Linked DNA regions of Homo sapiens. The protein of the gene in region 1 purifies or fractionates together with the protein of each later gene. This does not show direct contact. Each region holds a gene or a part of one and is shown in the gene's direction. Other genes may lie near its edges.

Region 1 (3,731 bases):
CAGGAGTTCAAGACCAGCCTGGATAACATGGTGAAACCCCGTCTCTACAAAAAATATATAAATTAGCTGGGTAAGGTGGTGCACGCCTGTAATCCCAGCTACTCAGGAGGCTGAGGCACAAGAATTGCTTGAACTGGGGAGTCGGAGGTTACAGTGAGCTGAGATTGTGCCACTGTACTCCAGCCTGGGCAACAGAGCAAGACTCTGTCTTAAAAAAAAAAAAAAAGAAATATGAACTGAGGAAGTGGGTTAGCTTTTTGTGTCATGAATGTTTCTGAATTTTCTTATGTAATAGGTGACCTTTTCCCTTACAAAAATTAACTCAGAGTACCATTTCTTACAGACAGTGAGATTAAATATTTTTTGAATGAATAGTGAGGTGGAGGTTTGGATTTTCAAACAATTTTCAGGTATTTCTAGTAACAAAGTAGAGGAATGGTTAACAAATAACAAAAGATAATTTCAGGCCACTGGCATCTGGCTATGGAGTATGTGTTTGTACTTATTTGGATATGGGTGTGCCTGTTTTTCTCAATATTATTTCAAGTCAAGAAATGAAGTCATTGGCCGGGTGCCATGGCTCACGCCTGTAATTCCAACACTGTGGGAGGCCGAGGCAGGAGGATCGCTTGAGCCCAAGAGTTCGAGACCAGCCTGGGCAACATAGGGAGAACCTATCTCTACCAAAAAAAGAAAAAATAGAAATGAAGTTATATGTTAAAGGTCAAATTCAACTGTCCATTTGTACCATTCTGCTTGTCATCCTGTTTCTCTTCACATTTCACTCTGCCCCCACCCTTAGGCAAATGCAACAAATGAATTTCCCCAGGAAGTAAACAAGTAGGATATTTGCCAACTATCAATAAAAAACAACAACGATAAGTTTTTTAGAAAACCAATACTTAACAAATATTTATTTTGTGTCAGACACTGTTAGAAACATTTTGTATGTATTAGTCCATTTAATTCTCACAGCAGCTCTGTGAGGTAAAGTCTGTCATTTTTGTTTATAGAAAAAATAGAGGCACAGAGAGGTTAACCAACTCACTTAAGGCACACAGCTGACAAATGGGATGTCCAGATTTGAACCCATGCAGTCTAGTCCCCAAATTTGTACATCATACTACCCAATCAAGGCATCCAAATATGTGCTCTGATTTAAAACATTAATTTATTCAATAAGTATTTATTGAATACCCACTAAACCAGTCATTGATATAAAAATATTTATATACTGAACATCTACTGTGTGCCAGGCACAGGGGATACAGTAATGAACCACATAGACAAAAGTCTTTGCTCTCACAGGCTTGAATTCTGGTGAGGAAGACTAGAAATAGAAAACAATTAAATATTTATATACAGTGTTGGATAGTGTTAACTGCCAAGGAGTAAAAATAAAGCGGGGAAGAGAATGTGAAATGTCATAGACAGCATTGAAGTTCTAGGCAGGGCTAGTCAGGAAGGCATCAGTGGGAAGACGACATTTGAGTAAAGACCTGAAGGAAATGCAGTTGCTCCATGCAGATCAGGAGGAAAGAACATTCCAGGCAGAGGCAACAGCAGGTGCGAGGCCGTAAAAAAACCAAGGAAGCCTGTGTGGTTAGAGCAGGTTGAGCAAAGGAGGGAATGTGGTAGGCTGAGAAGTAACACAGAACTGAATTGAGTAGGGCGTTTATGTAAGGACTATTAAACTGAGTAAGATGGGAAGCCATTAGCATTTTGAGCAGAGAAGTAACATGATTTTACATACATTCTAATAGAAGCACTCAGTGGGCCGGGCACAATGGCACACCTGTCATTCCAACACTTTGGAAGGCCAAGACAGGAGGATCCCTTGAGCCCAGGAGTTCGAGACCAGTCTGGGCAACATAGTAAGACCCTGTCTCTACAAAAAGTTTTTTAAAATAAAATAAATCATAGAATCACTCAGGACTCCTGTGTTGAGAATAGACTTAAGAAGGATTTCTCAACCTCTGGGCTGTTGACTTTTTGGGCTAGACGGTTCTTAGTGCAGGCCTGTTTAGTACACTGTAGGATGTTTTCAGCAGGCCTGGGCTCTACCACCAGATGCCAGTAGCATACATACCCTTTGCCCAGTTGTGACAACCAAAAATGCCTCCAAAGATTGCCCACAAAGCAGAATCACCCATGGTTGAGAACTACTGGACTGAAAGAGGCACAGGAAACTCAGGAGACTGCTACGATATTCTAATTTAGAAGTAATAGTGGCTACCAGTATGATAGCAGTGGATATAGTAAGAAGTGATTGGATTCTGGAAATATTTCTAAGAAGAGCCAACAGGTTTTGCTGCCGAGTTGGATGTGGAGAAAGAGAAAACAAGGCTGATTTACATGGTTTTTGACCTGAGCACCTGGTAGAATGGAGTTGCCATCAACTAAGATAGGATACCCAGAAGGAGGTTTGGGGCTGGGGAGGAAGATAAGGTGCTCAGTTCGGGGAGTATTTTGTTGTTGTTGTTTTTGAGACAGGGTCTTGCTCTGTCACCCAGGCTGGAGTGAAGTGGCGCGATCATGGTTCACTGCAACCTCAAACTGTTGGGCTCAAGCATTCTTCCCACCTCAGCCTTCCAAAGTGCTGGGATTACAGGTGTGAGCCACCGTGCCCAGCCAGGTGCTCAGTTTTGGATAAACAAGTCAGGGTTCAAAGGTGACGTCTCAGCAGGAGGCATCACAGGGAGTGAGCAGTATGAAGCTGTGGTTTAAAGTGATGAGACTAGTTGAGATTACCAAGCAGACAAGTAGAAGAAAATAAGTCCAAAGACTGAGTGTTGGGTTTGAGTCCAGTATTTGGAATTCAGAGAGATGAGAAACTAGGTGGAGGATGAGAAGGAGCAGTCAGAGGTGGAAGGAAGGAGGAGACTGGCACAGAACCAGAGGAAGGAGGAGGAGGCGGGGTCGGTGTCTGTGTCAGATGCCGCTGGCAGGCCAAGTTCAAGGAGACTGGTCACCATTGAGGGACTGAGTGAGGTGGAGGGCACTGGGTTTGACCAGAACATTCTGCCTGGAGTAAAGTGGGTTGGGGTTGGGGTGACAGCCTGCCTGGAGTAAAGTGCAGAACTGGAAATACCACATGTAGACTGCTCTTTTGTTGTTGCTTTTACAAAAGGATTCATAAATAGTTTCTTTAAATTTGACTTCCTTCTCGTATAAATATACTTAAAAGAGAAGCTGAGGAGTAAAGAAATTTAAAGTGTTAGAGCCAGTGCACATGAAGATAGCTCATAATTGAAAATAAAACATTATGACTATTGCCAACAACCTTGGGAAGATCCTCTGTGTCTCAGGAAGTCACCTTCATGGGATCAAGCCACCATATGCCCCTGGTGACGCAGCCTGTGCTCTCCTGAGGCACTGCTGCTGCCCAGCGGGAACCTCCAGGCTGCTTAGGTGGGCTTGGAGGTCAGACAGGTCCAGGTGTGAACACTGAGCTCTGCCACTCTCTGTGGGCCTGACTAGTGTGGGAACTCTCAGGGTCTCACTCTGATCACTTATGAAATGTATGAAGTGGAGGAAGTACGATCTATGATGTTGGGTGGTTGTATTTGAGAGAATGTGTCAAGCACCAAGCAGGTGTTTATGATACATAAGTACTGCTGTTGGTAATGTTATTATAGCTAGCACATATGGTGCTTACTATATGCTAGAAGCTTTGTGTATATTAACTTATTTAATCCTTACAATAACCGTGGGAGGTAAACCCCTTTTAT
Region 2 (3,500 bases), on another chromosome or scaffold:
CAATTGTGCTAGCCCTAATAGACTAGGAATGCCAATTTCAGAGAGGAGGACTAGAGCAAGATTGAGAAAGAAACAGAACAGAACAGGCACTGTCCTGAGTCCTGTTGAAGGTGAGAGGAGAGAGTTGTATACCCTCGGAACATTGCTTCTAGAGGTTTATAATCCCAGTGCTAGGAGGATCTTTGAGAGTAAGGGATGAAAATATAATGCATATTGTTATACTCAGTAAATTAAATGACACGGATCTCTAAATATCACCTCATGCTCATATTTGGGTTATTGGAGAATAGGACCATATAGTAATGGGATGCTTTTCTGTGCTTAGCACAGAACCCTAAGCAGAGAAGCCAAGATTGACCTTGAATTTCTCAGTGAAGTTTAACACTTCCATGAAGAAGAATGAGCAGTTTCCTACTGTGTGCATTTCAGCTTTCCTTCTCGCCCACCACGCCGATGAGCAGCCACGGTCGAGTCCTGTCCCTGTTGGTTGCCATGCTGCTTTCCTGCTGTGGACTGGCGGCCGTCTGCTCCATCACCGGCTACACCCACGGAATGCACACCTTGGCTTTCATGGCTGCAGAGGTGAGATACTGGATGCAGGACTTGCTCAGATTGTATTTCTGTCTGTTTTCAAGGAAGCTGGATGTTTGACAAGTTATTTTCACCCATGAAATGACAGGTGGATATTTGGTCTTTCATTTTAACAAGCATTTCAGTTCCTTTTTGTGTGTTGGGTACTGGTACTGAATGCTTTTGTGTGGTATTTTATGTAACTCTTTCTTTACGTAGGGTATAAAGATTTTACAAAATAATGAATAAACTGTACTCATCATTTTGAAGGAAAAATCTGGTCTATTCATGAATATTTTAAGATTTAAAAATTTTTCACTCTTTTAAACCTTTCTGAAAATACCAATTTCTGTTCAGTAGAAATAAAAATTCTCCAGCCTGGCCAATATGGTGAAACCCTGTCTCTACTAAAAATACAAAAAAAAAATTAGTTGGGCGTGGTGGCGCACGTCTGTAGTCCCACCTGCTTGGGAAGCTGAGGCAGGAGAATTGCTTGAACCCGGGAGGCGGAGGTTGCAGTGAGCAGACATTGCGCCACTGCACTCCAGCCTGGGTGACAGAGCGAGACTCCATCTCAAAAAAAAAAAGAAATAAAAATTGTTTGTATGTCCTTATATTTAATGGCTATATTTGCCTTTTCTTCAGGCCAAAGGCAAAATACTTTTATCTTACCCATAATTAGTATTATTAATTAAAAAATGAGATATTAGATAAACTGAAGCTAATTGGCTAATATCAAAACACTACATTTGAACTACTCATTGGGAATTTGGTAGAGCAGAGTTAAAGTTTATTTCTGTTTGATAGCATTCATTTTTGAGTACATTTAGTAGTGTAAGTAAAATTAGAAAAGAAACATTTAAATACATAATGTTAATTATCATATTATAATATTGTAATTAAAATACAATAGTCCTAATATAAATAATAAGATATGTAATCTTAGGTGAATACTTCTGTATATGAAAAATATACAACCGTATTTCGTCTTGACAGAAAATCTGTTGAAAAATCCATTTACACTGACTTATTTGCTTTAGATTTATTGCAAAGTTAGAATGATACTTATGTTTGCCTTTTTTTGATTCTCTAACTTTCAACTAATATAATATTATCCAAACTTTGAAAAGGGTATACCTAAAAATAAGCACATTTAACTTAGGCCCGTCAGCTCATACTATAGTATATACTTTTATTTTAGCTTGTTACTGTTTATTCTTTTAAGATAATTTATCATATTACAGATTTGATATTTTAAACTAAATCATTTCTTACATTCATAGTGTTTCTCTCTCCTGTAAAATATTTTTCACTTACAAATGGGAATTTAATCTAAAACATAAATAATGTAATAGTTTTATTCTACTAGATTAAGAGGACTTTTTTTCTTAATGAAAAATATCTTTTTTTTTTTTTTTTTTTTGAGACAAGGTGTCACTCTGTTGCCCGGGCTGGAGTGCAGTTGCTTACTGCAACTTCCACCTTGTGGGCTCAAGTGATCCTCTCATTTCCTTAGTAGCTGGGACCACAGGCATGAACCACCATGCCTGGCTAATTTTTGATTTTTTTGTAGAGATGGGGTTTTGCCATGTTACCAGGCTGGTCTTGAACTCCTGAGATCAAGCAGTCGGCCTGCCTCGACCTCCCAAAGTGCTGGGATTACAGGTGTGAGCCACTGTACCTGGCCGTCAATTTCTGTAATAAAAAAAATACCCTTCAAGACCAGCCTAGCCAACATAGCAAGACCTTGTCTCTACAAAAAAAAAAAAAAAAGCCATGAGAGACTTATTTTGTCCCTCTCCTCTCCTCCCCTCTCCTCTCTCCTCTCCTCTCTCCTCTCCTCTCTCCCCTCTCCCCCCTCCCCTCCCCCCTCTCCCCCTCTCCCCCCTCTCCCCCCTCCCCCTCCTCTCTCTCCCCTCTCCTCCCCTCCCCCCTCCCCTCTCCCCTCTCCCCTTCCACTTCTTCCCCTTCCCCTTCCCTTCTGACAGGGTCTGGGGTCTGGCTCTCTCACCCAGGCTGGAGTGCTGTGGTGCGATCTCTGCTTACTGCAGCCTCCACCTCCCAGGTTCAATCCATCCTTCCACCTCTGCCTCCCAAGTAGCTGGGACTACTGGCACGTGCCACCATGCCCACCTAATTTTTGTATTTTTTGTAGAGATGGGGTTTCACCATGTTGCCCAGGCTGGTTTTGAACTCCTAAGCTTGAGCAATCCTCCTGCCTCGGTCTCCCAAAGTGCTGGGATTAAAGGTGTGATGTGGCTGGCCTTATTTTGCTTTTGATTGCTTTCGTTCTTTTTTCTGCTGGTGGACAAAGGGAGTGCACAAAGCACTAGGGAGAGAGCAGGTCCTCGTGTCTAGGATAGCAGTACCTGAACTATACTTGGAGTTACAGCATCACCCTTCTAAGTAATCAGTGATAGTGACTTAATGCTGTGTGAAATAGAATTGATGGTCAGACTACCAGGGTAAACCTCAAGATTGTAGGGGGATTCCTGGGGGGTAGGTGTAATTGGTTGTCACCTATTAACAGGACTTTTCCTCAATAAAAGTTGGGTTTCTAGGTCATAAAAATATTTTACAGAAATTTGAAGCAGAGAAAATAAAATAATGGGTAAACTTGAACAATCTGCTTTTTAATTGAACTGAGAAATGTTTGTCTTTTATCATTTTATAAAAAGTTTGGCCTGAGCAATGCTACATTTTACTAAAAAGAAAATATCCTTTTTTATAGTCTCTTCTTGTGACAGTGAGGACTGCTCATGTGATTTTACGGTGAGTGAAATTGGGGAGGGAGGTGATGGAGGCCTACTCATACAGTTGATTTTAAGATGTAGCAGGTATGAAATATATAAAAATCGGACTAAATTACAACATGGTTAAACCAAATTCAGTAGTAACAGTAAATTACTAAGGTGTTTTCTCTCTTCATT
Region 3 (3,724 bases), on another chromosome or scaffold:
CTATGGCCCAGTCGAATTAATACCCTTTTTCTCACTGAGAGAGGAACACGTACTGCCTGTCATAACAGCATTGTAATGCCAGTGTCTCAGTAACAGAATCCTGGTGGGTGTTAATTGGGTGTTTTTTGCCCTGGAGAATTCAGATTCCTTTCTATACCTCCGATTCTGCCCAGAAGAGGGGGGGAATCACCAGTGTTACAAAATTAGAAGATTGTTTTGCCTGTTTTAGACTGAATATTTGAACACTGCAGCATTACTAGCCACCAGTGTTAAAGGACAGATGAGGGGAAACATTTGTTTTTAGCAGTAATTCCATGCCTCATCTTTTTTAAGTGATTTGTTCCAAATGAAGCCATTTATTGACTTGATGTTCACAAATATCATTTGAAGAAATAACAGGAATTGGGGTTAGATGATAAATTCTAGGGAATCTAGGTGATTTGGAGGATTTCATTTGTTTTGCATTACAGCTAGTTGCTCTCACTAAAGGTAAATTTCCGGTGAAATAACTCAGGTTTAACTAGCTGTGTGCCCAGAATCACTGTTCCTTCATACATGTGTCCTCTCCTTAAATTCATTACTTTCAAATGATGTTCAAAGCATTGACTATTTTCATTCAAAGAAACTACATTCGGCCGGGCACGGTGGCTCACGCCTATAATCCCAGCACTTTGGGAGGCCGAGGCGGGTGGATTACCTAAGGTCAGGAGTTCAAGACCAGCCTGGCCAGCATAGTGAAACCCCATCTCTACTAAAAATACAAAAATTAGCCAGGCGCAGTGGCACACCCCTGTAATCCCAGCTACTCGGGAGGCTGAGGGAGGAGAATTGCTTGAGCCCGGGAGACAGAGGTTGCAGTGAGTCAAGATCATGCCACTGCACTCCAGCCTGGCCAACAGAGCGAGACTGTCCCCCCCCCAAAAAAAAAAGAGAGAGACTGCATTCAAAGAGGACCAAGACTACAGTGAAATTAAAACTGTTTGCTGGCTGGGCATGGTGGCTCACACCTGTAATCCCAGCACTTTGGGAGGCCGAGGCGGTTGGATCACCTGAGGTCAGAAGTTCGAGATCAGCCTGACCGACATAGTGGAACCCTGTCTTTACTAAAAATACAAAAATTAGCTGGGCATGGTGGCGGCACCTGTAATGCCAGCTCCTCCAGAGGCTGAGGCAGGAGAATTGCTTGAACCCAGTAGGTGGAGGTTGCAGTGAGCCACAGTTGCGCCATTGCACTCCAGCCTGGGCAATGAGTGAAACTCTGTCTCAAATAAAAAAATAAAAATAAAAACTATTTGTTGACTTTTGTTTTTCATTTAGTTTTGGAAAAGACTATTTGCAAAAGTACAGAGTTATCTTCAGCAATTACTTCACAACTTAGATTGGTACCAAGAGTGACAGGAGATCTTGTCTTGGAAGATCATTATTAGATGCCAACAAGGAGACCCACTGTGATTTCTGGTAACCTATTTGGGGAAAAAGACCTAATGACCTAATATGCAATTTCTGTCCTCGTGTCTTTTTCTCTAACACACAGTCATGGGTGAAACATTTCAGACACCTCAGGCAGCACTTATGGTTTCTAATTGTGAGAACTACCCTTCCATCAAACAAAAAGGGCAAGGGTGGGAGCCCCGGCTACTTGGTTAAACATTTTTTACTACAAATTCGCCCAGAAAAGGTGAAATATTTTGTTATAAAACTGTATTAAGCATGGCCTAAGTATTTATTAGGTATATGATCTGTGTAGTATGTTCCATCAGAAATATTTCTTACTAGTGCTTTAAGCTCCAGAGTAAACAGTCATTTAAAATGGAGTTCACTGGGCAGGTTTCCCCTTTAATCTAGATAGAAATACTCTTTATCAGAGATTTAAGGCACTGTTTTGCTAACTGGTAAATAAAACCAAATGTAAATATGTAAGAATGTTTATTTGTTGCACATAACTTTTTTGGTATAAAATAAATGTAGAAGTTACCTGTGGAAGTTGTGCTCCCATTATTCTTAAACTGCAGGGTTGCATTCCAAAAGAACTGAAACGAAGTCTTTTTAGACTCAGTAGGAGCCTTATATTCTTGAAGTCAATACTGTAACCTCATTTCTAAGGTATACAGGGTTGATTCTTTTTCTCTTAAATCATATGTAACTTGCAGAAGATTCAGAGTCCTCAGACCTCTAGTTCTTGGAATTCCTGTAGGTTTACGGTGTATGTGATTGTCAAGAATTAATGACAAAAATGTGTCACTGCCTACAGTTCTGTGAACACTCAGAATGTATTAATGAGCTGTTTTTCCATAGTTTTACTTTAGCTTACCTTGAATACTCCCTGTATAATCCTCTAAAAAGGTAGCATCGGCAAGAAAGATGAATCCGTTGGAAATACAGCTGAGCCATACTTCACGGAATAGAACAAGTGTGTTCTGTGCTGGAGCTCAAGACCTGTGGAAAGGGACTGCCCCCACTGGGTGCAATGGCTCATGCCTGTAATCCCAGCACTTTGGGAGGTAGAGGCGGGTGGATCACTTGAGGTCAGGAGTTCAAGACCAGCCTGGCCAACATGGTGAAACCTGCCTCTACTGAAAAATACAGAAAAATTAGCCAGGATTGTGGTGTGCGCCTGTAATCCCAGCTATTCAGGAAGCTGAGGCAGGAGAATTGCTTGAACCAGGGAGGCGGAGGTTGCAGTGAGACGAGATCACGCCACTGCACTGCAGCCTAGGCGACAGAGGAAGACTCCAGCTCAAGAAAAAAAACAATGGACTGCCCCTAATTTGTAAACCATTTAAATGTGTCTATTACATTTAACTTTTCTTAATGTTTGTCAACTAAAAGTTTTATTCATTATACTTTGACATACTGGAACACAAAACTTGATTCCTTTGAAAAACTAAAGAGAAGTTGATAAAAAAAATACAGAAGCTCTAGATTCCTAATTGGAACTGACTACACTCATTTTTAAAAAATGGACGATGCCTAATAAAACCACATGAAATTAACTTTATTCTTTCTTTCATGGAGCTTGCACAGGAAAGCTAAAAAGGAGGGTCTGTGTGGAGACACGGGGCTCAACCACAAGAGAGGGGAAAATCAAGTTCTATAGCAAGAACCATATTGGAGGCCGGGCACAGTGGCTCACGCCTATAATCCCAGCACCTGGGGAGGCTGAGGCGAGCAGATCACCTGAGGTCAAGAGTTCGAAACCAGCCTGGCCAACATGGTGAAACCCCATCTCTACTAAAAATATTTTTAAAAATTTAGCTGGGAATGGTGGCAGATGCCTGTAGTTCCACCTACTTGGGAGGATGAGGCAGGAGAATTGCTTGAACCCCAGAGGTGGAGGTTGCAGTGAGCCAAGATTGCGCCACTGCACTCCAGCCTGGGCGACGGAGCAAGACTGTCTCAAAACAAACAAAACAAACTGTATTGGTTCATTGTCTTTCAACTGACTGGACACCAAAAGGAGTATTTTTCCAAAGCGTATACTTCAAATCAGAATTGATGCACCATCCTTGCCTTACTGGAGCCCAGGAAGAGAGGGAGGACAGATTCCTTAAGGAAAGACTGTGCTCTGGGAGGGGGCAGGTAGCGTCATTTTGGGGTGTAAAGGCATGGAATGCTGATTTGTAGGCAAAGTTGTTTAAGGAGGTCCTGTCACATTCAGTGGCATCCGTTATGATAAAGCCAATAGGCTTTTACACTCATCTGTCCATTTCTGTCAAGACCCTAT

Evidence for each region.
Region 2: the proteins of SLC35E3 (region 1) and AMFR purify together in Homo sapiens (affinity purification with mass spectrometry; one large-scale study listed by BioGRID and IntAct). This does not show direct contact.
Region 3: the proteins of SLC35E3 (region 1) and VKORC1L1 purify together in Homo sapiens (affinity purification with mass spectrometry; one large-scale study listed by BioGRID and IntAct). This does not show direct contact.

Annotation. Positions count from the first base shown.
Region 1 is NC_000012.12:68,759,493-68,763,223, forward strand, and holds part of SLC35E3 (solute carrier family 35 member E3), read left to right. Parts: intron 1-547; coding exon of another isoform or gene 548-593; exon of another isoform or gene 594-899; intron 900-3,731. UniProt on the Homo sapiens protein: Putative transporter.
Region 2 is NC_000016.10:56,405,046-56,408,545, reverse strand, and holds part of AMFR (E3 ubiquitin-protein ligase AMFR), read left to right. Parts: intron 1-429; coding exon 430-582; intron 583-3,301; coding exon 3,302-3,342; intron 3,343-3,500. UniProt on the Homo sapiens protein: E3 ubiquitin-protein ligase that mediates the polyubiquitination of lysine and cysteine residues on target proteins, such as CD3D, CYP3A4, CFTR, INSIG1, SOAT2/ACAT2 and APOB for proteasomal degradation.
Region 3 is NC_000007.14:65,956,566-65,960,289, forward strand, and holds the end of VKORC1L1 (vitamin K epoxide reductase complex subunit 1-like protein 1), read left to right. Parts: 3' UTR 1-2,993; downstream 2,994-3,724. UniProt on the Homo sapiens protein: Involved in vitamin K metabolism. Can reduce inactive vitamin K 2,3-epoxide to active vitamin K, and may contribute to vitamin K-mediated protection against oxidative stress.